Linked DNA regions of Homo sapiens. The protein of the gene in region 1 interacts with the protein of each later gene in a pairwise test. Each region holds a gene or a part of one and is shown in the gene's direction. Other genes may lie near its edges.

Evidence for each region.
Region 2: the proteins of ARV1 (region 1) and TMEM31 interact in a two-hybrid assay, tested with the Homo sapiens proteins (one large-scale study listed by BioGRID).
Region 3: the proteins of ARV1 (region 1) and TMX2 interact in binary tests that used the Homo sapiens proteins (3 or more experiments, as listed by UniProt).
Region 4: the proteins of ARV1 (region 1) and SMO interact in a two-hybrid assay, tested with the Homo sapiens proteins (one large-scale study listed by BioGRID and IntAct).
Region 5: the proteins of ARV1 (region 1) and TLCD4 interact in binary tests that used the Homo sapiens proteins (3 or more experiments, as listed by UniProt).
Region 6: the proteins of ARV1 (region 1) and SCN3B interact in binary tests that used the Homo sapiens proteins (3 or more experiments, as listed by UniProt).

Annotation. Positions count from the first base shown.
Region 1 is NC_000001.11:230,995,247-230,999,757, forward strand, and holds part of ARV1 (protein ARV1), read left to right. Parts: intron 1-513; coding exon 514-738; intron 739-1,874; coding exon 1,875-2,017; 3' UTR 2,018-2,021; intron 2,022-4,376; exon of another isoform or gene 4,377-4,511. UniProt on the Homo sapiens protein: Plays a role as a mediator in the endoplasmic reticulum (ER) cholesterol and bile acid homeostasis. Participates in sterol transport out of the ER and distribution into plasma membranes.
Region 2 is NC_000023.11:103,707,489-103,713,708, forward strand, and holds the start of TMEM31 (transmembrane protein 31), read left to right. Parts: upstream 1-3,420; 5' UTR 3,421-3,588; intron 3,589-4,747; 5' UTR 4,748-4,770; coding exon 4,771-4,872; intron 4,873-6,031; exon of another isoform or gene 6,032-6,105; coding exon 6,106-6,220.
Region 3 is NC_000011.10:57,719,093-57,724,533, forward strand, and holds part of TMX2 (thioredoxin-related transmembrane protein 2 isoform 1 precursor), read left to right. Parts: intron 1-5,441.
Region 4 is NC_000007.14:129,194,027-129,199,467, forward strand, and holds part of SMO (protein smoothened precursor), read left to right. Parts: intron 1-5,441. UniProt on the Homo sapiens protein: G protein-coupled receptor which associates with the patched protein (PTCH) to transduce hedgehog protein signaling. Binding of sonic hedgehog (SHH) to its receptor patched prevents inhibition of smoothened (SMO) by patched.
Region 5 is NC_000001.11:95,151,118-95,156,558, forward strand, and holds part of TLCD4 (TLC domain-containing protein 4), read left to right. Parts: intron 1-207; coding exon 208-302; intron 303-5,441. Other genes in the region: TLCD4-RWDD3 (TMEM56-RWDD3 protein), read left to right, coding at 208-302.
Region 6 is NC_000011.10:123,637,591-123,641,488, reverse strand, and holds part of SCN3B (sodium channel regulatory subunit beta-3 precursor), read left to right. Parts: intron 1-14; exon of another isoform or gene 15-522; intron 523-2,868; exon of another isoform or gene 2,869-2,950; intron 2,951-3,164; coding exon 3,165-3,303; intron 3,304-3,898. UniProt on the Homo sapiens protein: Regulatory subunit of multiple voltage-gated sodium (Nav) channels directly mediating the depolarization of excitable membranes.

The DNA of each region.
Region 1 (4,511 bases):
GTTGTTAAAATGAGTAAAGGAAGTCTCAGTTAACAATATTAAAAAATCATGTGGATAATAGGCACTTAAATAGTGGAAGAATGCACAGAGAAAAATGTCTTCCTGTGTTATCCCATTCTTACGATAGGTCCCATCTTTCAGACTGAAAAGCCTGCATTCTCCTGTTTTATTCTTTGGAGATCTCTTACACTGAAGATGTTTAAGCAGAATCTTACTTCCTTCAAGGAACTTCAGAAAGTTGATGATTACAATTCTAATGGAGTTACTTTTTCTTCAGTGGATAATGTTTCTGAAATTATACCAGCAGGATCTAATACAAAAGCCAGGGGTTTATTTAAAAAAAAAAAACAACACACAAACAAAAAGAAGAAGAAAAAGAGATTGTGATCTTGAGAAAGTATTTCTTATGAAGTCAGCTGATAAGCTGTATTTTAGAATGGTGGTTTATTTGTTTTTAAGGGGATATATTTTGGATGGGGACATTCATACTTTTATTTTCCATTTCTTCTTTAGAACAAACTGCCTATTTTATTGGCATTTTTACCTTCCTGTGGGTAGAACGGCCCATGACGGCAAAAAAAAAGCCCAACTTCATTTTGCTGCTGAAAGCATTATTATTATCTAGCTACGGAAAACTCTTGCTGATTCCAGCTGTCATTTGGGAACATGACTACACATCTGTGTGCCTCAAACTCATTAAAGTATTTGTTCTTACATCAAATTTTCAGGCAATTAGAGGTATGTTTATGTGTTTATTCTGCCTTCTCAGTTTTCAACCCATAAAAAGCTTAAAGCCTTGTTTCTGGGGTGCAGTTTTTATATAACCTGTTGAACACTGGAATTCTTCATCGCATAGTAATAATACCTAACACTTCTATAGCACCTTATACATAGCAGGTACTCAGTGTTTGTTACATTTAACCATATAGTACTTTATAGTTTTCAAAATGCTCTCATATGCATCATCTCTGTCCTGTGAGGTTAGTAGAACTGCCATTATTTGATTTTATGAATGAGCTCCTGGGGCTCTGAGGGTTAAGTGGCTTGTCCGACGTTACATGGCTGGGCAGTTATCAAGTCAGGAGAGAATGCTGAGTATCTGCCTCTCAATCCAGGACAATTTCTACTATATCAGGAAGAGCAGCCCTGTGTGTCTTCATTTTTCCCATATATTTTACATAGTGCTATTTTATTTATTTTTATTTTATTTATTTTTTTGAGATAGGGTGTCACTTGGTCACCCAGGCTAGAGTGCAGTGATGTGATCAGAACTCACTACAGCCTCTACTTCCTGAGGTCAAGTGATCCTCCCAACTCAGCCTCCTGAAAAGCTGGCCACAGGTATATGCCACCACACCCTGCTAAATTTTTGTAGAGACAGGGTTTCGACATGTTGCCAGCCTGGTCTTGAACTCCTGGGCTCGAGCAGTCTGTCCACCTTGGCATCCCAAAGTGCTGGGAACAAGCATGAGCCGCTGTGCCTGGCCGAAGTCCTATTTTAAATGAACTTATTACCTGATACTTTTTATCAGAATGCTTGTCATCTTGCAAACTGTGACACTGAAAGTATCATTTTGTTGTTGTTGTCGTTATTCTCTTATAGCGTTAGAATTTTTTGTTTTCTCCTTTGATATTCACGGGAATCTGCCGCTTGATATGAGGAGAAGGGGCTCAGTGTTTTGTTGTAAGTAGAGGCTTTGGTTCTCTAAAAATGTGTAGATGGAAAAGTGGGAGAAGGTAACAGCATAGATTAATAAGAACAAACATTGATTTTTCCAAAAACAGCTTTACAAAACAATTCATACTACCCGAAAATTTACATGTCAATATCGTTTCATTAATTCTGAACTTATTGGCTGCCTTCTCCTTTCCAGTGACCCTAAACATCAACCGTAAGCTCTCCTTCTTGGCCGTGTTGAGTGGCTTACTGCTGGAAAGCATCATGGTCTACTTCTTCCAGAGTATGGAATGGGATGTTGGAAGTGATTATGCCATCTTTAAATCTCAGGACTTCTGAAGAGGTACTGAAAGCATGTAGTGTTCATGCATTCAGACATGTAGCCTTCTCAAATAAGACAGATGTCATTGTAAAAGAAGTCGGTGCCCTTACATAACCCATTCTCTAGCGTCTAACTGCCTCTAGGTCACCCTCATCTTCCTCAAGGACTTTACTACATGGCCCCCAGGGGTCTTCACTTTAGTTCCTTTTGTCACCCTCTGGGACATCAACATCCATGTTTTTGTTGCTTCTAGGGTCCTATCCTCACAATTTTTCTAACACCTCCACTCCCACCCATTCTACTAGGATTGCAGACTCTAAAACTGTCTCCTACCCTTCCCAACCATTCTCCACCCTCCCTTCCCCCATGCCAGGTTTTTGCTGCCTTTCTCACCTCTTAGTCTCTTGACCTCTCATTTTCGCTACTTCTGACCTGCCTTGCCTCTTTTTTAACCACACCTGGAACCTATAGGCTGTGTTGTGCTCTTCTCTGTTAGTACCTTGACATCCATCAGCCTTTTGCCTTCCATCATACGTGCTTTGCTAAGGCTGTTTGGGTGAGTCTTGCCACCTGTCTCCTAGAGAGCCTCGCAGTGTTTCCTGAGCAGCCACCTCTGCCAGTGCACAGAACCTCAGAAGATGTCATGCTGCTCCTGTGCCTTCATAGTCACCTCCAGTGACCCTCCCATCAGAGGGCCATACCTCGATTGTTCTGTTCTGGTCGTCCCCTTTGTCTGCTCTGACTTTGCTGAGAATTGAGACCTTCACAAGTTCCTTAAGCTTCCCTCTTCACGTCAGTTCGTCTTCGGTCTTCCTCATTCTTTCCTCCTTCTCTCCTTCCTATCTCATGTTGTGCTCAGCTTCCTCTCTGGGGCTGTTTCTGACCTGTGGGTGTTCCCCTCCCTCCAGTCACAGCCAGACTGTGGATGGCAGCCTCTGTGTTAGGAAGCAGGACCTTAGGCAGGATCCTGGAAGGCTGGGCCAGAGAGTGAGGAAAACACTGGAGCAGAGGGACACAGACCCCCGTCAGGGAGAGTTGAGGCTGCGCTTTGGTCTCTCCCTCCTCGCTGTTACATCCTCCTTGCAAGTAGCGGCTGTAAAGCTTCTCTGCCTCTCCTAACATGCCATCCTCCACTCCTGTTGCCTCAATCTCTCTTCATGCCCAGCTAATCCACCTTTTTGGGTCTTCAGACATATCGCTGCTTCATTGATCCTCTCTCCTGTATAGCAGCTCTCTCCCCTCTGCCTATGCACAGCTCTTCATTCCAGAACAGTTGATGTAAGCCTGCTTCCCCTGTTTCTTCACTGCCTTTCCTCTTTGTAAAACATACTTTCACCCAGAGTCTCTTGAACCTATGCTCCTAAAATTCACAAGGAGAGCAGGGCACAGTGGCTCATTTCTGTAATCCCAGCACTTTGGGAGGCCGAGTCAGGAAGATGGCTTGAGCCCAGGAGATCAAGACCAGCCTGGGCAACATAGTGAGACCCCATCTTTACAGGAAAAAAAAAAAAAACAATAGCTGGGCATGGTGGCGTACACCTGTACTCCCAACTACTCAGGAAGCTGAGGTAGGATGATTGCTTGAGCCCATGAAGTTAAGGCTGCAGTGAGCTGTGATTGTGCCACTGCACTCCAGCCTGGGTGACAGAACAAGATCCTGTCTCAAAAACAAAAAAATACACAAGGAAGCCAATTCCTCCTTGTTTTCTGAGTCCTCCTCCTCCCTTAGCTCTGCTCCAGAAACCTCTGGCTTTTGGCTCCTGCTGAAACAGGCCACCCAGTCCCTTCCCATTAGATCTTTCTTCACTGACTTCTTTGCCTGTGCCAGGATTCTGTCCTCAGCCCTCTTCCTTCCCTTCACTGTGCACGTAACTGTGTACTTTCCTTCCAGGCCTCATACCTCCAGCTTCCCCTCTCTGCCAGGTCCCCTGCCTCCTACCAGGACGGTCCTGCCATTACCTCAAGTGTCCACAGGTCTGATGTGGAATTCGGTGTCACCTGCACTCTCCTGTTGAAGCAGAGTCCTTTTCTGATAACGTTTCTCTTGAAATGCTCCTCAGCTCTTTTCACCCACACCTCACCCTCTCCTGCCTAAAGGTTCTAACACCTCCAAACCAGCCTGCAACCCATACTGCTGCCATGTAAGTCTTCATGGAGCACCATTCCTGGGGGCCTTCTCAATTTTTCCATAATTTCTGATTGCTGACATAGGAGTTTCTTGTGTCTTTCTGAAGAATGTCTTTAGTTTTCTCTGAGCATTAGTGTGGCCCTCTGTAATGTCATCATCCTAATTCTTCTCCCCAGGCATGTTCCTACTTAAGTTCCACATCCACCACAGGTCCTCTCTTCTCCAAACTTGCCTTATGCTCTCCTTAGGTCCTGCAGTGCCCTTGTCTCCACCTAACCAGATACGGTCAGCTTTGCCTCTCCATGGAATAAGTGAAGACTTTCCAAAAACTCCAGTTTGCAGTGCTTACTTTTTCCGTTGACCTCCGAGTGCTCAGCTTAACA
Region 2 (6,220 bases), on another chromosome or scaffold:
CGACTTTCTTGGATGATATCTTCCTCCTGGAATTACAAGGAAGAAACGGCAGAATTTGAGGTCAAAGCTCAAAGGCAGAGGGATAGAGAACAGACCACCCATCAATATCTCATAGGGAATGTTATGCAGACAAGGTGCCTTGGGTACACAGGCCCATTGCATGCTTTTTATGGTCACAACACTACTCATGAGATAGATGTATGCTAAGCAGCTCTACGTGCTATATATAGTGTATGTCATGATTCCATGGCAGATAGGCTCTAAGCTACCCATGTAAAATGCAAAACATCATTTAGAGTTATCTAAAATCCAGTGAAGTGCCGGCCACTGTGAGAGGACATCTCAATGTCAAGTTATCTCTGACTGGTAATAAACAAAACAACAAAACTATTAGATAGTGAAGTTGAGATATTCAGTCTTAGTAAACTTGACTTTAATGACTTTCAAAAGCTTCAGAATTCATTCCCCTTTTGAATCGTATCTTTTAAAATTTATCTCAACTTAAAACTGAAAATTCCAAAAGTTTTAAATAACCCAATGAGTTATCCAAATTAGGATAAACACATGCCCAGTGAGGGGTAAATTTTATATAAGCACTAAGTAATGCGGCAGACTGCCAAAAGTCCATTTTCCAATAGTTAGCTGACAACCTTTAGTAGCTAAACGCAGCTAGGAGCCAGGAAGTAGGGACAGAAAGATAAAGTTGAGAGAGAAAGAGAGCAAGAGAGAGCGAGAGAGAGAGAGAGAGAGAGAGAGAGAGAACCAAAACCTCTGAGTGTCAATAGAGAGAGCTTTACTTATATGAGGCCCTCAGGCCCCCATTCACAGCCTATTTAGTCTTATTTTATATGCAACCCTAACAAGCCTAATTTTATTTACTTCTAAAGGACAGGGTTGAGAAATGCTTCCTTCAAAGATGGTGGTAATTTCTTAAAGTATTCATGGTTTTAGAGTCAAAGTTTCAGGTATCTAAGAAATCACCTGAAGTGCAATGGCCTCTTGGAGGACGATGCAAACTGTCATCTCGGTTTGTCCAGAACGGAAGGTGTTCCTAAGACTTGGGTCTTTCAGGGCTGAAACTGGGGAAGTGCAAGGCAAATCAGGAAGAGCTGGTCATCCTGTGGCTACCTGAGGTATTTATTATAAGTTATAAGAAAAAAATATGTGTATATTGTATAGGTATGACATAGATATATACAAAATGTGGATAAAGTAGATTTTAAACACTCTGTCTCTCTCAGTTAGAGGGACACCACAGGGTCTTTATCGTGGGACCTCTGCAGCTATGGCAACACACTGAAAAGTGGCTTTGCCAGGCACGGTGGCTCACACCTGTAATCCCAACACTTTGAGAGGCCGAAGCTGGCGGATCACGAAGTCAGGAGTTCGAGACCAGCCTGACCAATATGGTGAAACCTCTTCTCTACTAAAAATACAAAAATTAGTCAGGCGTGGTGGCGGGCACCTGTAATCCCAGCTACTCAGTAGGCTGAGGCAGGAGAATCGCTTGAACCCACGAGGCGGAGGTTGCAGTGAGCAGAGATTGCGCTATTGCACTCTAGCCTGGGTGACAGAGCGAGACTCCATCTCAAAAAAAAAAAAAGAAAAAGAAAAAAAAAAAGAAAAGTGGCTTTGTGTATGAGATGTTGGTGTTGTAGGTCCTAGTAACCCTTGATAATGACATGACTAGAAACTGACCTGTCATCATAAAGACAGGCCTTGGTTCACCTCACATGTACTCTGTAATTCATTTTTACACTATTCTGACAAAGGAGGTTGTGCTGGACCCATTTTCGAGGTGAAGAACCAGAGGCAAACAAAATATTTTGCAATAATTTTAAAATGAGGGGAGTAAGTAAAATGGTTTTCTCCTTTGATTTCCAGTTCAGGGTCCCTCAGATGACCCTGTTGCCCAGTACTCACCCTGATCCCCTGAGCCCTACCCTGGCTAGAGGATGTAAGCAAAGGATGTTGGCAAAAAAGCTCTGAGGGGGAAAGTTGGATCCAACTGCTATTTCTGTTTCTATAGATCTAATTATTTTCCCTTTTCTCCAATCATAATAAATCTAAAGGGAGTTATTTGGACACATTTCCCAGGCTGGAAAAAGCCATTTCACACAGGAGAGAAAATATGGCCAACAGAGTAAGCTGGTCTTGGCTTTTTGTGACTTTAACATACTGCACCTGTTGTAGCTGGAGGAGCAAAGATGAATGGCTTGAAATCCAGGGGTGGGGCATCCTGCATTTGGGTATTCTCTATTTAGGCCAAATTCTGAGGGGTGTTTGTGTGTGGGGTGTGTGTGTGTGTGTGTGTGTGCTGGAAAGGAACATTGGAGCCTTAAATACCACTTTGTGGCTTACATGCCTATTAAAATAGAACTTTTTTTCCCCTGGCTATCTATAGGGGAGAAGGACTGAGAAGCTAGAGAGGGAAGATATCTCAAAACCACGCTAAGGAGGGAATGCACAGTGTAGGAGGTAAAGTGTGGAGATGGGAAAGAGTGATTTGTATTGAAGTGAGAGGGGCTAGAAAAAAAGGGATTAGAGAATGGGGAATGAAGAGGGTGCTGGAGGATGAAGAGAGGTGGGCAGGGTTCTGGGACCAAGCCCTTGAGAGGACTGGGCAGTATTTTGAAATTTCTTCCAGTTATCAAGTTATTCTATTGATCATGGCAAAGCTTTTGCTCTGTCCAGTTTGAAAGACAGTCCTCTCCAATCAGCCTGTAAAAGTTGGTGAGCTGGGTTACATGACTGCTGTGTCCAGAGCCTGGTGCTAAGGCCTGCTGAGGAGATGAAAAAGAGCTTCCCTTTCCTGGGGAAGCTTATGGACTAGCCGGGAAGACAGTGTAGGATTGCATGGGTAAAAAGTAAACCACTTTAGGCAGTGACATGAAAGGGGGCCACCATGCTATGGAGTTGTTGGTTGAGGAGAGAGTTGAGAAGAAAAGATGTGAATGGCTGGCTGGTTCCTAGAACACTCCTAACTGACTCTTGGCTAAGGGTTCCCTGGAGATCACATGGATTTTCTCCCTGCCCTCTCAGACTGAAGAATTCTTTTTCCCTAGCTGGAGCAGTAGGGCCCGGACAGAGGTTCTAGAAATGGATGAACTCTCCAACAATTTTTTCAGCCTGCTTGGTGCCTCCAAAATACCTGCTACAGGTCCTGGGATAACAGTGACTTTAGAAGACTCAAAAAAGGACATGACGAATGGCACGGGTTTGATTTTCAGTTTTATTCACGTTAATAATAATAATAATTCACGTTAAAAAAAGCCTCAGCCCACTTTTAGGCAGGCCCCAGAGTCCTAAGCAAGGCCCAGGCTGCTGTTGTAACTTTGTAATAATTGAGCACTGGTCATGACAGACTCCATTATGAGCTCAGGATCAGCCTATATATATGAGCAGGAGGGGACAGGCTGCAGGCAGTTGCGGGTTGCAGGAGTTCAGGAAAGGAGGTGGGACTAGAGTCAACCTGGAATAGCTCTACAGTAACAATGGCAGCCTTTTTGTTGCTGGGACATCCATACAGGCAACTTAGCTGGTGAAAGGACTCTGGATTGGTTGGCAGTCTGCTTTTTTTTTTCCAAGGTAGGCATTGAGAAGGCACCAAGATCAAAACTCCTATAAAGATAAGATCTTGGTACCTGCAGGCAGATTTGTTCGACACAGCTAAAGAGGGGGTGGGGACAGTTAGCTTAGAAAATGGAGTGTCCTGGCCGGGCGCGGGGGCTCACGCCTGTAATCTCAGCACTTTGCGAGGCCGAGGCGGGCGGATCACGAGGTCAGGATATCGAGACCATCCTGGCTAACACGGTGAAACCCTGTCTCTACTAAAAATACAGAAAATTAGCCGGGCGTGGTGGCGGGCGCCTGTAGTCCCAGCTACTCAGGAGGCTGACGCAGGAGAATGGCGTGAACCCGGGAGGCGGAGCTTGCAGTGAGCCCAGATCACGCCACTGCACTACAGCCTGGGCGACAGAGCGAGACTCCGTCTCAAAAAAAAAAAAAAAAAGAAAAAAGAAAATGGAGTGTCCTTTTTTCTTGCCCTTCTGCTAGGTGTATACACATATTTTTCTAACCCTTGGTATGGGTTAGGAAATGCTTTTAGGTTTCTTGAAGAATGAGTCCTACTCGAGGACATGTAGTTGTGGATTAGTCCACTAGAGGGCGTACTGCCCAGGGACCAACTAAAGGACTAAAGGGTAGGGACTGATAAATTCAAACCACTAGATGAGACAGGAGCCCTGCCCTCAGCAGAAAGGAACCTTAGCAAGGGACATGAAACCAAGGAGGTAGTTTGTGAGATATTTTTAGTGCGGACATACGGTAGGGGTGCCCCTGGAGCAGCTGAGGTGGGAGGTGGTGTGTTGAGGAGAGAACATTCCTTGTGCTAGTGTGGCCCAGACAAGCTAGAGTCAGGATTTTAAGAGTGGGTTCACAGCATTGTTTCCCATCCCCCAGAGGTCATTATGCTCTTGCCTCTCTGGCTTTAGAGCCTCCAGATTAGACAGAAAACATGGAGTCAGAGCTGAAGACAGACCAGAACTCTGTGTCTCTAATGGTTAAGCAACCAGTATGTAGCTCAGTTAAGCCTTTCAGCTTTGCTCATAATTGGACACTTGCTTCTGTGAGGCTGGCCCAGGCACCTCTGTTGTCATGACAACTTACCTAGCACCTATTGTCTGGGCAATTGGGGGTAAACTGCCTCTGTTGTCATGACGACAAGATTTCTTTTATATTTCCCCAGGTGATCACTTTACTGTAGAAGAAATGAGGTTAACAGAAAAGAGTGAGGGAGAACAACAACTCAAGCCCAACAACTCTAATGCACCCAATGAAGATCAAGAAGAAGAAATCCAACAGTCAGAACAGGCAAGTGGTGGTTTCTCAATTCCAACTTAGTTATGGGGGTCCTCTTATAATGCTCCCCTAGAAAGACACCAATGCCTGATTGTTGAATTCTTAACCACCAATTAGTGTATGACAACCTGGGCTACCTTCCTCCCGGTTGTGGGGGAGCAATTACTACTCAAAGCAATCTCTTTTTATTTATTTATTTATTTACTTATTTTTTGAGATGGAGTCTCACTCTGTTGCCCAGGCTGGAGTGCAGTGGTGTGATCTCAGCTCACTGCCAGCTTCAAGTGATTCTCCTGCCTCAGCCTCCTGAGTAGCTGGGATTACAGGTGCCCACCACCACACCGGCTAATTTTTGTATTTTTAGTAGAGACAGGGTTTCACCATGTTGGTCAGGCTGGTCTCGAACTCCTAACCTTGTGATCCACCCGCCTTGGCCTCCCAAAGTGCTGGGATTACAGGCGTGAGCCCCCGTGCCTGGCAAAGCAATCTCTTATTAGCTAACTTGGTAAGGTTCTACTACTAGCTAACATATCTTCAGTGCTTATTCTATGTCAAGCAGTGTGCCCATGCCCTTAATCAATCTACTATACTGACTTACAGAATCAAAGAGATTAAAGTAATCAAAGAGATTAAAATCAAAGAGATTAAAGTAATCAAAGAGATTAAAGTAATCAAAGAGATTAAAGTACTTAGCTTAACAGTGACCAGCTTAGTACTAGAATCCAGGTTTCTTTCTTTCTTTCTTTCTTTTTTTTTTTTGAGAAGGAGTTTTGCTCTTGTTGACCAGGCTGGAGTGCAATGGCTCAATCTCGGCTCACCGCAAACTCCGCCTCCTGGGTTCAAGCGATTCTCCTGCCTCAGCCTCACAAGTAGCTGGGATTACAGGCATGCGCTACCACGCCCGGCTAATTTTGTATTTTTAGTAGAGACAGGGCTTCTCCATGTTGATCAGGCAGGTCTCGAACTCCCGACCACAGGTGATCCGCCCACCTCGGCCTCCCAAAGTGCTGGGATTACAGGCGTGAGCCACTGCGCCCTTATGAATCCAGGGTTTCTGATTGCCTATCTAGTCCTTGCAGCCCTGGGGTGGGTCTTGGTTTGTGGGGAGGCGGAGTAGGGAGGAAGGAGTCCAAAGGAGAAAGGCAGTGGGCCGCTCCCTAGTTGTACTCACCAAGCGTTGGCGCCTCTGCCTTCTTCGAAGTCGTATGAATTCTTTATGCTGACGAGAAACAAAATTTATGGCAGCATACTCCAGCAAGGCAGCGAACACAAAGAGCAGACACACAGCCATCCAGATGTCGATTGCCTTCACGTAGGACACCTACAACATCCAGCGACAGAACGATCAACCTTCTTGAAG
Region 3 (5,441 bases), on another chromosome or scaffold:
TGGTGCAATCTTGGCTCACTGCAACCTCCATCTCCTGGGTTCAAGCGATTCTCCTGCCTCAGCCTCCTGAGTAGCTGGGATTACAGGTGCACGCCACCACGCCCGGCTAATTTTTTGTATTTTTAGTAGAGACGGGTTTTCACCATGTTGGCCAGGATGGTCTCGATCTCCTGAACTCGTGATCCAGCTGCCTCGGCCTCCCAAAGTGCTGGGATTACAGGCATGAGCTACCGTGCCTGGCCAATTTTTTTATTTTTTAAAGGCTTTCTGCTTTTTCTCTTTTGGATCTCATGCCCTGGGAAATTTTTTCAGTTCACTGAAACCCCCTTTAAAAAAAAATTATGTTTAGTCCTTGTGTTCACTTCCTTTCTTGTTGGCATGATCTTTGCTGAGAAAAATGTAAAATTTCTTTTTTCTTTGTCTTTTTTTTTTTTTTTTTTTTTTTTGAGACAGGGTCTCACTCTGTTGCCCAGGCTGGAGTGCAATGGTGAGATGTCACCTTACTGCAACCTTGACCTCCCGGGCTCAAGTATTCCACCTCAGCCTTCTGAGTAGCTGGGATTATAGGTGCACACCACCACGCCCGGCTAATTTTTGTATTTTTTGTAGAGATGGGGTTTCGCCATGTTGCACAGGCTGATCTTGAACTCCTGGGCTCAAGTGGTACATTTTCCCTCAGCCTCCCAAAGTGCTGGGACTATAGGCATGAACTACTGCACCCTGCCTTGAAAATGTAAAATTTCATTAGCCTTTTGGGGAAGCTTAAAATCTCTCCAAATTGGCTTCTCCAAAACTGGTTGTTCCATGTATTTCTACTTCTTCCTTTTGCCACCTTTGATAACCCTTAAAGGGGTCTAGATGGGACTTCTGACAACCCTGAGATCCCTTGAGGAAGACAAAAAAAAGGTGCCACTGGTTGGGCGCGGTGGCTCACGCCTATAATCCCAGCACTTTGGGAAGCTGAAGCAGGTGGATTACCTGAGGTCAGAAGTTTAAAATCAGCCTGGCCAACGTGGTGAAACCCCATCTCTACTAAAAATACAAAAAAAAAAAAAAAAAAAGGTGCCACTGACCCTCTCTTTTGGGGCCTCTCGTTTTCCTTATAGAGCCCCAAAAGTCACTAATGGGTTCATGTCAGGTTTAAAACTCTTCTCTCTTTTGAATTAAACTCTCTAGTCTTTGGCTTTTGTATCGATACATGTGTCTATATATGTATGTATATGTCTATACATGTGTTTATTGTGTATATGGTACCAATAACGAATGAGTACCCCCAAAAGTCAGGAGTCAACAAATGGAAATTCAAAACAAAACTTTTTCTTTTTTTTGAAACAGAGTCTTGCTCTATCGCCCAGGCTGGAGTGCTTTAGCATGATCTCTACTCACTGCAACCTCTGCCTCCAGATTAAGCGATTCTCATACCTCAACCTCCTGAGTAGCTGGGATCACAGGCGTGTGCCATCACACACGGCTAATTTTTGTATTTTAGTGGAGACAGTTTCACCACGTTAGTTAGGCTGATCTCGAACTTCTGGCCTCAAGCCATCCGCCCGCTTTGGCCTCCCACAGTGCTGGGATTACAGGCGTGAGCCATCGTGCCTGGCCTCAAACTAATTTTTATAAGTGTTTCTTTTTTTTCCTCTGAGTTAAAAGACTTGCATCTGCAATGGACTGTTACCTTACAAGGAATCGAACCCACGCTGCAGCAGCTAACCAGTTTATTGCCAGCCACTAGACCACAGATCATAGTGCCTTTTTGCAGGCCCTTCAGGGGATCCAAAACAAGCAGTTTGAGTGTACAAAGAATTTTAACTTGTGTTTTGAATCTGATTTCTGTCTTTTAAAAATCTTGCCAAGGGAGTTTCTAAGGCTGTGTTCTTTCTGTATCTTTTTATGGGTACTAGAAAGATAGCTGTTTTTTTTTTTTTTCCTCAGGCCAGGTACGGTGGCTGTAATCCTAGCACTTTGGGAGGCCAAGGCGTGTGGATTGCCTGAACTCAGGAGTTCGAGACCAGCCTGGGCAATACAGTGAAACCCCGTCTCTACTAACATACAAAATATTAGCCGGGTGTGGTGGTGTGTGCCTGCAATCCCAGCTACCTGGGAGGTTGAGGCAGGAGAATTGCTTGAACTGGGAGGCAGAGGTTGCAGTGAGCTGAGATAGTGCCACCGCACCCCAGCCTAGGTGACAGAGTGAGACTCCATCTCCAATCAATCAATCAATCAATGTTTTATTTAAATAAATAAATAAAGTTTTTTTTTTTTTTTTTTTTGAGATGGAGTTTTGCTCTTGTTGCCTAGGCTGGAGTGCAATGGCTCAGTCTCGGCTCACCACAACCTCAGCCTCCTGAGTAGCTGGGATTACAGGCATGTGCCACCATGCCCAGCTAATTTTGTATTTTTAGTAGACATGGGGTTTTTCCATGTTGGTCAGGCTGTTCTCAAGCTCCCAATCTCAGGTGATCCACCAGCCTCGGCCTCCCAAAGTGCTGGGATTACAGGTATAAGCCACTGTGCCTGGTCTAAAATGTTTTTTAAATAAAGCCAATTTACTTAGCGACTTAAGCCAATAAGCCTTCTTCATGGAAAGTCTCAGAGGTAATTTTCTAGGTTCAGAATACCAGATGATATAACCCTCACATTCCCCCAAAATATTTACTTTCAAAAATAGGCTAAGATAGCGAAAGACTCTTGTTTTCATAGACAGTTAAGGATGGTGTTTATGTGTGTGTTTCCTGTAGTATCCCACCAATACGTGGGGGGCTGCTAATCATAGACCTATTAATTTGAGACACCAGCTAGGCCCTCCCTGGATTGGACTTGCCCAGGACTAACCAGGCAATAAGAGTTGAGATTTCTTCCTTCTCACTGAAGTAATTTTATTTATTTATTTTTTAAATTAATTTTAAAAATTGAGGGGGGAGACAGGGTCTTGTTCTCTTACCCACGCTACAGTGCAGTGGCATGGTCGCAGTTCACTACAGCCTCAACCTGCTGCACTTAAGCCATCCTCCCACCTGAGCCTGTCAAGCAGATGGGAGTACAGGCACGTGCCAACATACATGCCCAGCTAATTTTTAAAAATCATTTGTGGAGAGGAGGTCTCACTGTGTTGCCCAGGCTGGTCTCGAACTCCTGAGCTCAAGCGATCCTCCCACCACAGCCTCCCAAAGTGCTAGGATTACAGGTGTGAGCCACCGCACCCAGCTTCAGTGAAGGAATTTTTTTAAAAGGAGAAGAAAAAGATAAAAGAGTTGAGACAATAAAATCAGGTGTGAGTCACTGCACCCGGCCCTCTTTCTCTTTTGAAAAGGCCTTGAAAGATGGCTCTCTCCTTCACCTTTTGTTGTGTCCTGTAACTTTTACTAATTATCTAAAGTAAGGGAGAAAAATTGTTTTTGAAAACAGGCAAATAAAGTATCTTTTGAACATGGCTTTTATTCTGCATGCCTGTTATATCTGTATCTTTATATGTGTCATATAGAAGTGATACTTTACTGCCAAACTACATGAAAGAGCTCTAATCAAGTAATTTAAAAAATGTAAGTGCTTATCACATTGGTAAAAGCTAGCTCAGATGCCTTTTAATTTACATAACCTTGGTAAAACTCTCCAGTGATTTAAAAATCTTAAAGTCATGTTTAAACCCTCAAGTTTTTTTTTCCCCCACTGGAAATTTGGGTTACTAGAAGTTAAGATAGTAGAAACATAAAATATGCTTTTATTAAAATTTTATTGGCTGGGGTGCAGTGGCACAAGCCTATAATCCCAGCACTTTGGGAGGCTGAGACGGGTGGATCACCTGAACTCAGGAGTTCGGGACCAGCCTGGTCAACGTGGCAAAACCCCATCTGTACAAAAATACAAAATTAGCTGGGCGTGGTGGCGTGTTCCTGTAATCACAGCTACTTGGGAGGCTGAGGCAGGAGAATCCCTTGAACCCGGAAAGCAGAGGTTGCAGTGAGCTGAGATTGTGCCAATGCACTCCACCCTGGAGGATAGAGCAAGACTCCGTCTCAAAGAAAATAAATAAATAAATAAACACACGGATGTCAACTCTCAAAAAAATGTAAGTTTCTTTTTTGTTAAGAAACTAAGTGGCTTGGGCTGGGTACAGTGGCTCACGCCTGTAATCCCAGCACTTTGGGAGGCCAGGGCGGATGGATCACCTGAGGTCAGGAGTTCGAGACCAGCCTGACCAATGTGATGAAACCCCATCTCTACTAACAATACAAAAAAAATTAGCTGGGTATGGTGGTATGCACCTGTAATCCCAGCTACTTGGGAGGCTGAGACGGGAGAATTGCTTGAACCCGGGAGGCGGAGGTTGCAGTGAGCCGGGATTGTGCCATTGCACTCCAGCCTGGGCAACAAGAGCAAAACTCCGTCTCAAAAAAAAAAATTCATCGCAAAAAAAAAAAAAGAAAGAAAGAAACTAAGTGGCTCACGCCTGTAATCCCAGCACTTTGGGAGACTGAGGCAGGCGGATCACAAGGTCAGGAGTTCGAGACCAGCCTGGCCAACATGGTGAAACCCTGTCCTACTAAAAAAAATACAAAAATTAGCCGGGCATGGTGGCGAGTGCCTGTAATCCCAGCTACTCGGGAGGCTGAGATGGGAGAATTGCTTGAACCCAGCAGGCGGAGGTTGCATTGAGCTGTGATCACACCACTGCACTCCAGCCTGGGTGACAGAGCAAGACTCTGTCTCAAAAATAATAATAATAATAATAATAATAATAATAAGCTAAGAGTTGCTTTATAATGAAGAAAATTATACAGATAAAACTAAATGGATTTTTTTTTTTTAAAAAGGAAAACAAAACAAGCCAGGGCAACAAAACTCTGAGCCCTATGGTTACCAAGAAAATAGTCAATATAGGGGAAGGGCAAAACCAAGTAACTATTTAAAACCAAAGGGTGTAATGTAAAGGAATTGTTCCATTTTGTAGATTGGTATCATTCAGCTTCTTTTTTTAAAAAAAACTTTAGTGGATTGTGAAAATAACTGCTTTAAGGACAAAATTCTTAATTTTAAATGCTACAGAATTTAAGAGCTTGTTTGAATTAATGCAGGACCCAGAACTCATTACTGAACAGTCACTGAGTATATATGATCCAAACGCAAAGGGGGTTTATTCTTGAAAAAGCAATCAGCCTAGTGGGCCAGATAATGCCATTATAAGGTCTCTTTGCCCTGAGAAGGGAACTGCCCAACTCTCCCTTTAAAATACCAAGTGAAGTACCCCAGATGAAGCAGTTAGTATGTTTCATATACAAGCCATGTTGCACTAGCTTTATGATAACTGGGATATCCTCCCACCAAATATGTCTATTACCCAGGTCATGGTAAATTTGGAGGTTAAGAGGGCCCGTTTTACATGGGTGCCCTCCTACAGAATCATAGGTCTGTTTAAGAAGCCTTACCAAATATCCTGTCCC
Region 4 (5,441 bases), on another chromosome or scaffold:
GAGGTTGAGGCTGCAGTGAGCCATCCTCACACCACTGCCCTCCAGACTGGGCAACAGAGCAAGACCCTGTCTCAAAAATACATACATACATATAGATATGTGTGTATGTATACACACACACACATATATGTATAGTGAAAATGTAAAATACAGAAAAACATACATGGACCTAAGTCTTTTTTAAAAAAAAATTATCTTTAATTAATTATTTGAGAAATGGGGTCTTGCTGTGTTGCCCAGGCTGGAGTGCAGTGGCTATTCAGAGGCTCACTCATTGTGCGCATGGTGCTTATGGTGCCTGGAATAGCTGGCACTACAGGCATGTGTTCTGTGCCAGCTCAAGTCTTCAATTTTGCTTCAGATCTTTAACTTTTTAATTGTGAAATATAACTGTATGCAGAAAACTGCATAAAACACAAAGGTACTGAATAACAAATAATTATAAAGTGACATCTGGGTCAATAACTAGACCACAGTCAGACCCCTGAAGCTCCCTCTGTGTCTTGTCTAGTCACATCCCCCTCCCCTTGCTCAAGAGGTTTTCAGTAATCACATCCTTTTTTTCTCTATGGTTTTACCTCCTAGTTTTGGAATCCATAAGCAGTATATTTCAGCTTTGCATGTTTTTGAACTCTGTTCAAATGGAATTTGTACAAAATAATATGCTGTGCATATTATTTCTTGCTTCTTTTACTTTATATCATTATGTAAGATTCATCCATGTTATTGCAGCTTATTTCTTTTTTGCTTGTTTATTTGTTTGTTTTTGTTTTTTTGAGACAGTCTCACTCTGTCACCTAGGCTAGAGTGCAGTGGCGCGATCTCGGCTCACTACACCTCCACCTCCTGGGTTCAAACGATTCTCCTGCCTCCGCCTCCCAGGTAGCTGGGACCATAGGTGCACGCCACCAGGCCTGGCTAATTTTTGTATTTTTTAGTAGAGACAGGGTTTTGCCATGTTGGTCAGGCTGGCCTCAAACTCCTGACTTCAGGTGAGCCACCCGCCTCATACTGCAGCTTATTTCTTCATTGCTGAATAATATTCCATTATATGAGTATACCCCCAGTTGTTTACCCATTTTATTGTCATCTCAAGTTTTTGCCCATTGCAAATAACATTGCTGTGAGTAGTCTTTTATGTATATCCTAGTACAACTGGCACAAGTTCCTTCAGGTATATGCTGAAGAAGTAGAATTGCTAGATAATAAGGCACGCATACTTTAGGCTTTTGCCAAACCATTTTTCAAAGTGGTTGTACTAACTTATACTCCCACTAGCTAGTAGAAAGTCAACACTGGTTCACATGATTCCCAACATTTGGTATTATCAGCCTTTTACATTTTTGCCAATCTAGTGGCTATATTGTGGCATATATTTGTGGTTTTAATTTGCACTTCCCTGATTACTAGTAAAGTTAAATGCCTTTTTAAATGCTTACTGGCCTTTAGGGTTTCTGCTTTTGGGAAGTGTCTGTTCAAATCTTTGACATATTTTTCCATAGGGGCTATCTGTCATTTTTGTAAGATTTGTAGGAGTTCTTTATATATGCTAGATATGAGTTTATAGGATTACAAAGGAAATCAATTATATTGACATAATAGTTATCAAATATAAAAATGCAAGTATGTGGGCTTATTTATTTATACAATAAATAAGATCTGGTGCAGGTGTAATAACAACTATAATATCAAAGTGATTATAAGCATTGACATTATTTCAAGATATCTGCAACAAAAATATCTGGTTTCCACTTGTGACAACGCCACAGGTACTATTAACATTATGTACTGTGGGCCAGGCGTGGTGGCTCACACCTGTAATCCCAGCACTTTGGGAGGTCAAGGTGGGCAGATCACGAGGTCAGGAAGTCGAGACCATCCTGGCTAACACGGTGAAACCCCATCTCTACTAAAAATACAAAAAATTAGCCGGGCGCGGTGGTGGGCGCCTGTAGTCCCAGCTACTCGGGAGGCTGAGGCAGGAAAATGGTGTGAACCCAGGAGGCGGAGCTTGCAGTGAGCCGAGATCGTGCCACTGCACTCCAGCCTGGGTGACAGAGTGAGACTCCCTCTCAAAAAAAAAAAAAAGAAAAGAAAAAAAAAACAAAAAAAAATTATGTACTGCGATGTGTTGCTTACATTCATAATTGGAGGAAGGGCCAAATTTTAGTTAGGTGTAATTTTTTTCCCATTGAAATTCATGGACCTCTGAATTTTTCCAAGAATCCTTTGTGAACCATAGGGTAAGAATGTTACTTACAGAATATCACTATCTAGTAGAGAGTCTGAGCTATTCTTGATTGTGTGTGTGTGTGTGTGTGTGTGTGTGTTTTAATAGAGACAGGGTTTGACCCTATTGTCCCGGCTGGTCTTGAACTCCTGGGCTCAAGTGATCCTCCTGCCTTGGCCTCCCAAAATGCTCCTTTGTGTTTTAATATAAAAATACTTGGTGATTTTTTATTGGGATTGCATTGACTATATAGATTAACTTGGAAAAAAAAAGAGACATCTTTACAATACTGAGTCTTCCAAACATTGAACATTTATATATTTCTATTTAGATCTTTCATTTTCTCAATATTCTGCACAGATTTAAATACTTATTATTTGTTAGACATTCCTAGGTACTTGATATTTTTGATGCTGTTGTAAATGATGCCTTTAACATTTATTTCACTTTGTTTGTTGCTGACATATAGAAATAAAACTGGCTGGGCACGGTGGCTCACACCTGTAATCCCAGCACTTCGGGAGGCCAAGGCAGGGGGATCACGAGGTCAGGAGATTGAGACCGTCCTGGCTAACATGGTGAAACTCCATCTCTACTAAAAATACAAAAAGTTAGTCGGGCATGGTGGCGGGCGCCTGTAGTCCCAGCTACTCAGGAGGCTGAGGCAGGAGAATGGCGTGAACCTGGGAGGCGGAGCTTGCAATGAGCCCAGATTGTGCCACTGCACTCCAGCCTGGGCAATACAGTGAGACACCGTCTCAAAAAAAAAAAAAAAAAAGAAATAAAATTGATGCCTTTAACATTTATTTCACTTTGTTGCTGATATATAGAAATAAAATTGATTGTGAATTCAGTAAACTTGCTAAATTTATTCTATACACATAGTCATATAATTTGTGAGTAATGAGTTTTGTTTCTTTCTTTCCAAGTCTTATACCTTTTATTTATCCTTATTGCTTTACTGAAGGCTTCCAGTACATTGTTAAATAGACAAAACATCTTAATTCTTGACTTTTCTGGATTCTAAAAAGAAAGCTTTTTCTACCCTTCACCATTAAATTTGATGTTTGGTATAGGTTTTTTATAGTTAATTACATTTTATCAGATTAAGAACGTTGTCTCTTATTTCAAATTTGCCAATTATTCTTTTGATCATAGATGGATGTTGAATTTTATCAACTTTTTTTTTTGGAGACGAAGTGTCACTGTCACCGAGGCTGGAGTGCAGTGATGCGATCTCAGCTCACTGCAACCTCTGCCTCCTGGGTTCAAGCGATTCTCCTGCCTCAGCCTCCCAAGTATCTGGGACTACAGGCGCATGCCACCACGCCCGGCTAATTTTTTGTATTTTTAGTAGAGACGGGGTTTCACCGTGTTAGCCAGGTCAATTTCCTGACCGTGTGATCCGCCCGCCTCAGCCTCCCAAAGTGCTAGGATTACAGGTGTGAGCCACTGCGCCCGGCTGAATTTTATCAACTTTTTTTTGCATCCATTGAGATGATCATATGATTTTTTTCTCCTTTAACCTGTTAATGTAGTAAATTGCATTGATTGAATTTTCTAATATTAAACCAGCCTTAGAACAGTGATACTCAACTTGACTAGTCATCAGAATCACACAAATAAAAAGTCTTTTTAAAAGTCTAGATCAGCCAGGCGCGGTAACACCCGTATTCCTGTTTCTCTTTTTGTTTCATATTTTATTAAAATAAAAGAAGTAAAATAATACTGATAAAGCTGATATCCCCTCTCTTTCTCGTTTCAGTTTCATATCCTTCTTTTCTCTTTGGAAAGCTTCCCCATCCTAGTAATTTGTGTATTTCTTTATTTTGTTTTTAAGCTCAAGTTTTGTTTTTGTTTTTGTTTTTGTTTTTTTGTAGAGATGGGGTTTGGCCATATTGCCCAGGTTGGTCTCGAACTCCTGAACTTAAGTGATCCACCCACCTTGGGCCTCCCAAAATGCTAGGATTATAGGCGTGAGCCACCATGTCCAGCCTTAAGCTTAATTACTTTTAAAAAATAGGTTATACATGTACATGGCACAGAATTCAAAAGGAACAAGTTAAGTCCTACTTCTGCATCTAGCTACCCATTTTTCCTCTGCAGAAGTAACCACCAACACTGGTTTTTGTGTCCTTTTGGAAATATCCAACATCTGTCCAGATGTAGATGTGCTCTCAGTCTCTCCTCTACCGCCCAACCAGTACCATGCTCTATAGACTGCTCTCCACTCAACTGAGTCCATGTAACATGACAACATTGGACATCATTCCATTTCAATGCACATCCTGTCATGCACCCCAGAAGGAGATTTTGGTTAACAATGGACCACATGTGATGGTGTTCCCTTAAGATTATAATACCACATTTTTACTGTAGCCTTTCAATGTTTAGATATGTTTAGATACACTGATACTCACCGTTGTGTTACAGTTGCCTGCAGTATTCAGTATAGCAACATGCTGTACAGGTTTGCAGCCTAGAAGCCATAGGTTATACTGTATCAGCTAGGTGTGCAGTAGGCTATACCATCCAGGTTTGTGTAAGTACACTCTGATGTTCACACAAAGATGACATTGCCTGATGACACATTTCACAGAAGATATCCTCATTGTTAAGCAACATGTGACTATATCTCAACCCTGAATAGTGTTCTATTATAATGGTGTACATTATTTTACTTGGTTGGTCTCCTATTGATGGATATGGATTCAAGCTGTTTCTACTTTTTTGCTATTGCAAAACAGTGCTGCAATGAATAATCTATATTATCTTTGTGAACATGTGAAGTAGAAGTACTAGTATAAAATTTTGGTAGATAATGCCAAAGTGATCTCCACAAGTGTTTACTAATTTTTATTCCTACCAACAAATATAAAAGTGCCAGTTTATCCCTACACTCTTTATAGTACGGTATTTTCTTTTCTTTTTTTTTTTTTTTTTGAGATAGAGTTTTGTTCTGTCACCCAGACTGGAGTGCAATGGCGATCTCGGCTCACTGCAACATCCGCCTCCTGGATTCAAGCAATTCTCCTGCCTCAGCCTCCCAAGAAGCTGGGATTACAGGCGCCCACCACCACACCTAGCTAATGTTTGTAGTTTTTTAGTAGAGACGGGTTTTCACCATGTTGGCCAGGCTTGTGTAGAACTCCTGACCTCAGGTGGTCCACCTGCCTCGGCCTCCCAAACTGTTGGGATTACAGGCGTGAGC
Region 5 (5,441 bases), about 140 Mb from region 1:
GAGGAGCCACAGGAGTGTGGATGAGACAGGCATATAGGAGCAGAGATTTTATGGTAAAGTAGATAATCAGACTAACTGAGGGATGAACAAAGTGCTGTGGGCTCAGAGTGGACAGTGATGAGTTGGCAGGAGAAAGAGTTCAATACATTTGAAAAACAGTGCAACTTTCTTCTTATGTAATACCTTACTCACTTTTCTTTCTTACAGATTTGTCCATTATAATTTTGTATTGGAAAGTGATTGGTGACAAATTTTTTATAATGCATCATTGTGCGTCCCTGTATGCATACTACCTTGTACTGGTGAGTTCCAGGATTTTCTGTAGCCTAACTAGCAGACAAGATTGGGAATAGTGATGTAAAGGTGAACATAAATCTAAACATACAATTCTTAGTTTTTAAAGACCATCTCCAGATGCATTCAGGGATTGCTTTTGTGGTATGCTATCTTCTGTATTAACTAAAATAATACCTTTATGTGTGTCTGTGTTGGTGTTGGTGTGTCTGTTTGTATTCATAGATTTTGAGACAGACAAATGACCCTAATTCTTTGAATTTCCATTTAAAACCTTCAGGATTGTTGTAGCTATAGATATTTGTCTGTATTTCTAGATGCATTTATGATTTAACAGCAAAGAGTATGAGCCAGCGAAAATATTTCTTTTCTGTTTAATTCCATGTGCAATTACATATACATAATTACATTTAAGTAGGTTGGAGCAGTGGAGAAATCTTGCTCAGACTTTTTCAGAATTCCAAGACCAAGGTTAATAGAGGATTCTTCCAACAGATCTCAGGCAGTAAAGCATATTAAATTATATATCTAAAATTTCTACATATACATATGTAAACTAGCAACTTTATATTCCTTGTATGTTTGTTAGGTTTCTCTAGAATCAATTGTTTTTCAACATAAATATACCAACAAGCTCAAGGTAGATATTGCAACTGCAATTTTTTTCATAAAGATGGTTGCTTTTTTGATATGTCTATGTTCTGTTGTTATAGTTTAAAATTTGTCTTTTAAAGTGAATCTATTCATAGGGAAACAAAATAGGAAAAGTTAGATGAAATGATGAATGTTAACAGATGCTATAAGGATCCTATGTTATTTACCAATCTTACAGTAGTTACTCATTGACTATAAGAAGGTTTTTTTCTATGCAGTGAATTCCCAGGTCATTTTGTGCATTTTGTTATTCCAAGTAAAGCTAACAAAAATAATAATAATTATAATTTTGGGGGGGTAAATGATCATGAAATTCTTATCACTTATGCAATAATGAGAACTTGTATTTGGAAAGCACTTTGACTTAATACTTATGTAACCATTTAAGCTGTTTGCAGTAAGCTTTTTTTCTTAAATGATTTTGTTATTAGAACCAAAGTAAAACTTAAAGTGATGAATAGAAGCAAGTTCCCTGCAGTTTTAAAATGTATCCTTACTGAAGAAATAGTTGAAAAGTAAGATTCTTTGGAATTTAAGGTATTATAGGTTATATAATGTCTTGATTGCTATTTTTGTATCTTTCTACTATATTTACTGACGTTTTGAAATTCTCTGGCAAAGTAATTTAGAGCTTAATGAATCCTCTTCTGTCTATATAGAGAGGTACAAATCCTACAGCCTTTTTTCCTGATACTCATCTTTCACCCCTGGAGCAGGATACTAATTATCAAATAAACCTGACAAGCTGATCTCTTATTCTAAGAGAAATGAACACATTTATGCTTTAATCCTCAATTTTTAAGGACAAACTACCATCCTTTGTACACCCTTTCTGACTACATTGATAGCCTTCACTTTTTGTGTATGTGTTCCTTGTGAATCACTTCTTTCTCCAATTAAACCATGCCTTTAGATAATGAGTTAGAATATATTTGGAAAACATTTAAACTTGAAAATCATTCAATATGCATCAATTTCCAAGCCCACCATATTATTATTATTTATTTTCTTTTTTTTTTGAGATGGAGTCTTGCTCTGTCACCAGGCTGGAGTGCAGTGGTGTGATCCTGGCTGGGCAGAAGGGATAATGGGGAATTACTGTTTAATGGTACAGAGTTTCCATTTGGGAATATGGAAAGTTCTGGAGATGGATGGTGGTGATGGTTGTATAACAAAATGAATGTACTTAATGCCACTGAATTGTACACTTAAAAGTTGTCAAAAGGGTAAATTTTATGTCATATATATTTTGCCATAATAAAAATGTTAAAGCAAGCTTATGAGATAACTGAAACAAAGTTAGGAAGGAGAACTAATAACATATTGGACAATGTTATTACATTTTTAGAAAGGCTTCATCCTAACTATAAACTGAAACAAATGGGTGGAACTTAATAGTGATAAATGTTAAGTTTTGCATTTAGGTTCAACGATGCATAAGGATAAAGAATGACCTGGAGGTGGTAGATGATTGCATCTCAGTTATGCCAATTTATCACATCTGCTAAAACAGAAAGCTTTTTCAAATTTAGATTCTATTAGAGGAGGCCTGGTATCCAATTCACACGTAGTTTGCCCAGTCAGACCACATCCAAGACCATCATCATCTGAAGTCCCTAAACTTGCATGTATCTGGAAGAGAGCTGCTAGTTAACTGTAGAGAGGAGATATTAGATTAGGTAGCTATTGTCTTATAACAAACAATTGAAGGACCTGGAGATGTCAGCCTAGAAAAGCTAAGAACTATAAGGACATGATGGCCTTGAAATGTCCCTGGAAATGTGAAAGGACTACTAAGTGGAAGGGGGAGTAGACTTATTCTGGATTGATTCTGATGTTGGGACTAGGACCAATGGGGTGGTAAAGAGAGGTAGGGGAGACTTCTATTTTATGGAAGAAAGACATCCTCAGTGATTGGAAGATTATCACAATGGAAAGGCCTTTTAAAGTGGCTATTCTACCATAAGATAGCTTTAGTCAGATAGATATAAAAGTAGATACAATCAGCAGAAGCTTTAGGTAGGAGCTTGCACTAAATAATCTTTAAGGTTCTATTCTAATTCTGAGATTCTGTGATGCACCTGTTTTGTTGAAATGATTTGATTTAGTTCTGATGCAAGAGAACTAGACAATGGGGGAATTAACAATAAGCTAAGTTATGTCACCAAGTTCTTAAGTAACCCTAGGAGGAAGAGGTGAAAGCAGCTGGCCTGCCAATCCATTCACTTCCTTGGGGGACAGGAGGGGAGAAAAAGAAGGCACGTGGCCCAGTCTAATCTCCTTGTCAACAGGACTTAGGATAAATTGAGTACTGATGTTTGTTAGGAAGAAGAAACATTAACTCTGAAATGCCCTTAGCAGTGTGTCCCTGGGTAAGGATTACCTATAGTAAAGAGAACCCAGTATCTATAAGGCACAGCTCATTGGAGAAGGTCATGTAGGCACACAGCAAGGAAATAAATAACTGGGTTGCCAGTGGCCCTTGATGTCCCAGACCTCTCTCTGCTTCATTTGAATTATTTGATGGTCTCTATCTTTGTAACATTTAGTAGAGCTTAATGCTAGGTAGGAACACTGTTTCACATGAGTCTGATTTGGCAGTCCAGTCCTGTGTGTTAGCTCAAACCTTCATCTCTGTCTTATAAGCAAATAATCAAAAACCTTGAATGATTACAATTAAGCAAATAATTATTAAACATAGTAATAGATTTTGTTTCCAAACCTCAATTCTAGGTTGATGGTACCCTGAAACGGTTTCCATTAATAGGTAATAGACTGACCCAGAGTCTCAAGCACAATTGAAATGTGCTTGAGACTCTGGGTCAGTCTATTACCTGTTAAAAAATGCCCCATCATTGCCACTATAGAACACGGTCACGTTTTTACACAGGATTCCAATTTGGGATGCCCAGAACTTATTTCCTACCAACATATAGTCGTAGTGTAGTGTAGTGCAGTGCAGTGCAGTGTAGTGTAGTATAGTAGGGAAAGGGTGCCCATTTCTGTCCAGGCCTTTGGTGGTAGAACAGTCAGTATTTAGTACCATACTAGCAGTAGTAGGTGCATAATTTAGTTCTCTTTTCCCCCCCACCTTATAAACCTCTGGTCTTAGCCACTCTTAGCTGGTAGAAAAATTTCCCATAGTAAGAAAATCCAGACTTCCATAATCGCTTGCTAAAAGGAGAATTTTCTTTTAAGCTGCGGAAGGGATCAGAAAAATCCTGTTTTGTTTCCCCTCACAGTCATGCAGAGGCCATGGCAAATGTAGATTTTACTCTATGCAAAGCTCCTTAAAGGTAGATGACAGAGTAGAGACACCACACTAACCATAAATAACTTGTGAGTTTTGCCATAATTTACCAACAATAAAGTATCAGAATTTGTAATTATTTAAAAATATTATAGAAAGATTTAATCCTATCCCTTTAATAGCATCTATCTCATTTGTATTTTAGTAGGTTTTCTTGAATAGGAGAGAAAAGGATAAAGTAACAAGGAATTATGCATAACCTGAATCTTATCTAATGGCCACCTATGCTGATGGACGTATGTGTCACATGTGATGCTATCTGTCATTGGATTAAATGGGCCCAGAGTCATTGATATATTGACGGGTACAGGATCAGAAAATATAGACTCAAGATTACTGAAGCATAGTTCTGCACCCCAGTGTGACTCACAGAGGTTTTTTTTTTTTTTTTAAGATTTTTTTATTTTTCTTTTTTTCCTACTGGCAGGATCAACCAGGTATTACAGAGATTTTGAGCTAAGGAGGGTGGGGGATAGGGGATAACAATAGGATAGAATGAGTGGTTTCAATTAGGGATGTAAGATTTAAATATAAGATACTATTTAAAAATTAAAGTGTCATCCAGGGATCAATCAGTAATACTGTAGTAATTTAAGGAATGGAAAGATCATTGTGTTAATTTCTGTTAATTTTTCTTCTGAATATAGATGTTGGTAAAAAAAAAATTGAGTTTGTAGAAATACTGGGCTTAGTAAGTATAATGTTTTCTAGGTCTGATTCTCCAGAGATAACTACTGATAGTACTTGATGTATATTCTTGCAGTTTATATAAGTTTTACATAAATGTTCATATGTATATTTATGCCTTTTTGAATTTTCTAAGAGAGCTTTTGAGATAGATGGGATTTAAACCCAGCCTTCAAAAATATGCATATTTAGGTTGGAAAAAAAAGTAGGGAAGGCTTTCTAGGTCAGAAAACATTTTGAGGAAAGTCACTGAGGAGATGTCAGATCTTCATGGGTGATACTGAGGACTTGGGGTGTCAGGGTATGGGATTTGTGTAGACATGGGTGATGGTTGTACATATGGATGAGTAAGATAGGGCCAGCTGATAGGTGGAGTGAAAATTCAGACTCACCAGCCCTGCATTTTTGCTTTTCACGGAATGGTTGTAGGATCTTTGGCCAGAAAATAACTTGATACAATTGGCATGTTAGAAAAATAAAGCTGATGATGATATGC
Region 6 (3,898 bases), on another chromosome or scaffold:
CAGGAATCCCAACCTCCAGGCCACAGGTTTATTCATTTTTTATCATGTCGTTGTGATAAAAATAATGAAGCGGAGATTCAGTCCTCAGAGTGAATGAACAAAGGAGAAAGAGACATAACGGATCAGACGATATGACTAAAATGGAAGGTAGGTCAATTCTGAAAGTGCAGAGGGACTCTCAGGGCTCCTGAATCCAGACCTGATGAGTCACTTCCCTGCTCGGAGCCCCGCTCCTCTGGTGTGAAATGAAGGGGTTGGCGGGGGGCTCTCTGAGGTACTCCCCTGTTCTGAAGTTCCTTTATCCCCCGTTTGTTACACGCCTTTCCTCTGGGGGGTGGGGCCCTGGCGCCCTCTCCTGGTCACCATCTGGAACTTTTGGTTGGTGCCCGCCAGACCTTAGCACAGTGCTCAGCCGTCTCCACCTCTGCTCTCTCGGGCTTTTGCCTCCAGACACCCTCGTGCATAGCTGGTGGGAAGTGTGGCAAGGCTGAGCTAGTTCGTCTGCCAGGTACCAGAGCAAGCCTCGGGTAAAAACAGAAGGAAAAACAAGTTTATTATCAGAGCCACAGAGCCTCGTGGATGGTCGGGTGTGAAGGAAGCGTGGATATCATTTATTTAATCCAGGGCCTCTGGATAAAGGGCAGACATCAGAATCGCCCACATTGGCGTCCTCCAGATGTAGACACCTCTGCAGCACCCTTGCAGGTGTGAGATCGGCAGGGGTGAGTGAGGTCATATGCAAGTTGATGACTCCCCAGGTGATTGGAGGGTGTAGCTCTGGTGCCCCTCTTTTTGTGGCTGGGAGAACAGAGTTCTCTGCAAGAGCAAGGGGCTTGCTCAGGGACGTGCAGCAAATTCGCGCTGGAAGCAGGGTGAAAATCCAGATTGTTCGCCTGTCTGGAGGGCTTGCTTTCCACTGTTTCTTTCCCCACCCCCACCACCCCAACCCCCTGCCACTTTTTCTTTTTTGCCTCTGTGACATCAGATACTCCCTGCCCTCATCTTGCTCAGAGCTACGCACCCACCCCACCATGACACCTGCCCATCAACCCCACATCTCCTCCATTCCTGTGGTCCCACAAGGTCTCCCTGGTTCTCTTTGTTCAAGTTGGGTTTATTCTGGCTTTGGCTGTCACCTCCTGGCCCTAAGGCAGAAACCTGAGGCCTCTTCACCTAGAGGTAACTAAAAATACTGAGGACAGCTTCCTGTATTGCCATTTGTGGGCTACTGCATTTTGAAAGAGAGAGCATGCTTTAAGCCAAACAAATCATAAATAATGCACGAGGTGGTAGCAAGGCGGTGAGATGTTTGAGCTGTACGGCATTCTCATGTGCCTCACGCTGCATCTATGACCTCTAGCTCCAGTTGGAAACCTGGGTGATCCTGGAGCCTTCGGACTGCTCTCTGGGCTGAAAGTTATGGCAGGCTGTGCTGTGCTCTTAACAACCAAGGACTTGGGGATGACTTAGATCCAATGGATAACTGCAGATCATAAATCTGACTTGCTGTTGAGAGCTGGCAAGGGGAGAGGTGGCTACAACATTTCTCCCACTAGCAAGGAGTAGATATATCAGGATATCTGCCATGTAGTATGTTTTAATGGTCCTTTTTGTTGATCATGAAACAAATAAGATAATATTTATTTTCACTCATTCAATAAGTACTTATTGAGCACTTTAAATATTCTAAGATTTATACAGCAGGCAGATAATCCAGAAATAAATATGTTCTCAATAAGCACACAGTCCACAGAAAAGAAAGATAAGCACAATACAACTCTTATAACAGATGGATGAGAAAAGTGCATGGAGGCCAGACGCGGTGGCTCACGCCTGTAATCCCAGCACGTTGGGAGGCCAGGGCAGGAGGATCACCTGAGGTGAGGAGTTCGAGACCAGCCTGGCCAACATGGTGAAACTCCGTCTCTACTAAAAGTATAAAAAATTAGCTGGGCATGGTGGTGGGTGCCTGTAATGTCAGCTACTTGGGAGACTGAGGCAGGAGAATCGCTTGAACCTGGGAGGCGGAGATTGCAGTGAGCCGAGATCATGCCACTGCACTGCAACCTGGGCAACAAGAGCAAAGCTCCATCTCAAAAAAAAAAGAGAAAAGAAAAGTGCACGGAGAAGGTTGTGAATAGCTCCGCATGAGAAGTTGGGGATGGTTTCACAAAGGAGGGGACCTCACAGGAATCTAGAACTACTGCGAGACTGCAAAGCAGGAGAGGATATTAGCACAGAACTAGCCGTGGGTGAAAGACACAATTCAGGAAGAGGGAAGAGGAAGAAAAGTTCACAGATTCTAACATACCACAGTGTGTAGCAGAAGTTTTTCTGGCCAACCAAATGGAAATGAGGTGAGAAAGCCCGGATTGTGAAGGCCCTTGCATGTCACGTGAACAGAGTTGGGGCTTCATCCTAAGGGGAGTGTGGAGCATTGAAGAGTTTTCAGCAGGGAAATGGCAGGATCCTAACTGTGTTTCAAAAGTACAGCCCTGGGGACAATGCGGTTGATACACTAAATCCTCCAATATTTATGTTTGGTTTTGGATGACCTGGAAGGTCTTGTTTCTAACCCAGACTTGTAGAGAACATGCGCATATCTCATGGAGGCTGTCTTTGTTGGCCCTGAATGAGTTTTCCAACGCTCTCTCCCCAGGAATACCACCCTCCACCACCGGCAGCTCAAAAGACAGAGGCAGTTGAAATAAGGCATGTTCCTTACATCTGTGTAGACTTTTAATCTCACAAGATGTTCTGAAATACATTAGATAATGTAATATTCACAAACCCCTGACTGGTGTTATTATCCTCAACCTACAAATTAAGAAACTGAGTCTCAAGTAAGGGAAATGGTTGTTTACACACCTGTAAATAGCAAAATGGACAGCCAGCTCTAGATATCTCACTTTGAGGCCAGGATTCCTTCCACTGCTCGGCTACTTCTTCCAGGCATCCCACTCCCTCTTCCCTGGCTCCTGAGCAGCTGATGACAGTCAGTGAGAAAGCCAATGGGCGGGAGAGTCAGGATTTGGAATACCTTTGACATCTTCTTGAGTTTCTTTACTCAGTCTTTATTTAAGCTGTACTTAAAAATATGGCTCCAATGACGGCTCTAGGTTTGCTGGATTTGCATATTCTGAACCTCATTCTCTTTCTTTCAGCTGGAGAGGACTTCACCTCTGTGGTCTCAGAAATCATGATGTACATCCTTCTGGTCTTCCTCACCTTGTGGCTGCTCATCGAGATGATATATTGCTACAGAAAGGTCTCAAAAGCCGAAGAGGCAGCCCAAGAAAACGCGTAAGTCCAGAGATGCCAAAGTAATAATGAAAGCTAGCACCTTCAGAATGCTTGCTCTCACAGGTGAGGTGCTAAGCAGTTTACATTCATCCTCCACCCTCTTCATGATCACTGCTTAAGAGATAGGCACCATTATTATACCCATTTTACAGATGAGAACACTGAATTTCGGAGAGTTGGCTTAAGGCAAACTCTTAATTCATTACGAAAAATTAAACATTTGCTTAATTCAAACATCACTTAGGAAACAAAGTGATGTTTGAATTCAGGCCTGTTGATTCTTGGCCAGCACACTTAACCACTAAGGCAAAGACCATCAGCTGCTACCACAACCCGTTAAAGTAATATTATTATGGCTGGGCATGATGGCTGTCACGCCTGTAATCTCAGCACTTTGGGAGGCTGAGGCGGGAGGATCACCTGAGGTCAGGAGTTCAAGACCAGTCTGACCAACATGGTGAAATCCCGTCTCTACTAAAAGTATAAAAAATTAGCTGGGCATGGTGGCACATACCTGTAATCCCAGCTACTCGGGAGGCTGAGGCAGGAGAATCCCTTGAACCTGGGAGGCGGAGGTTGCAGTGAGCTGAGATCG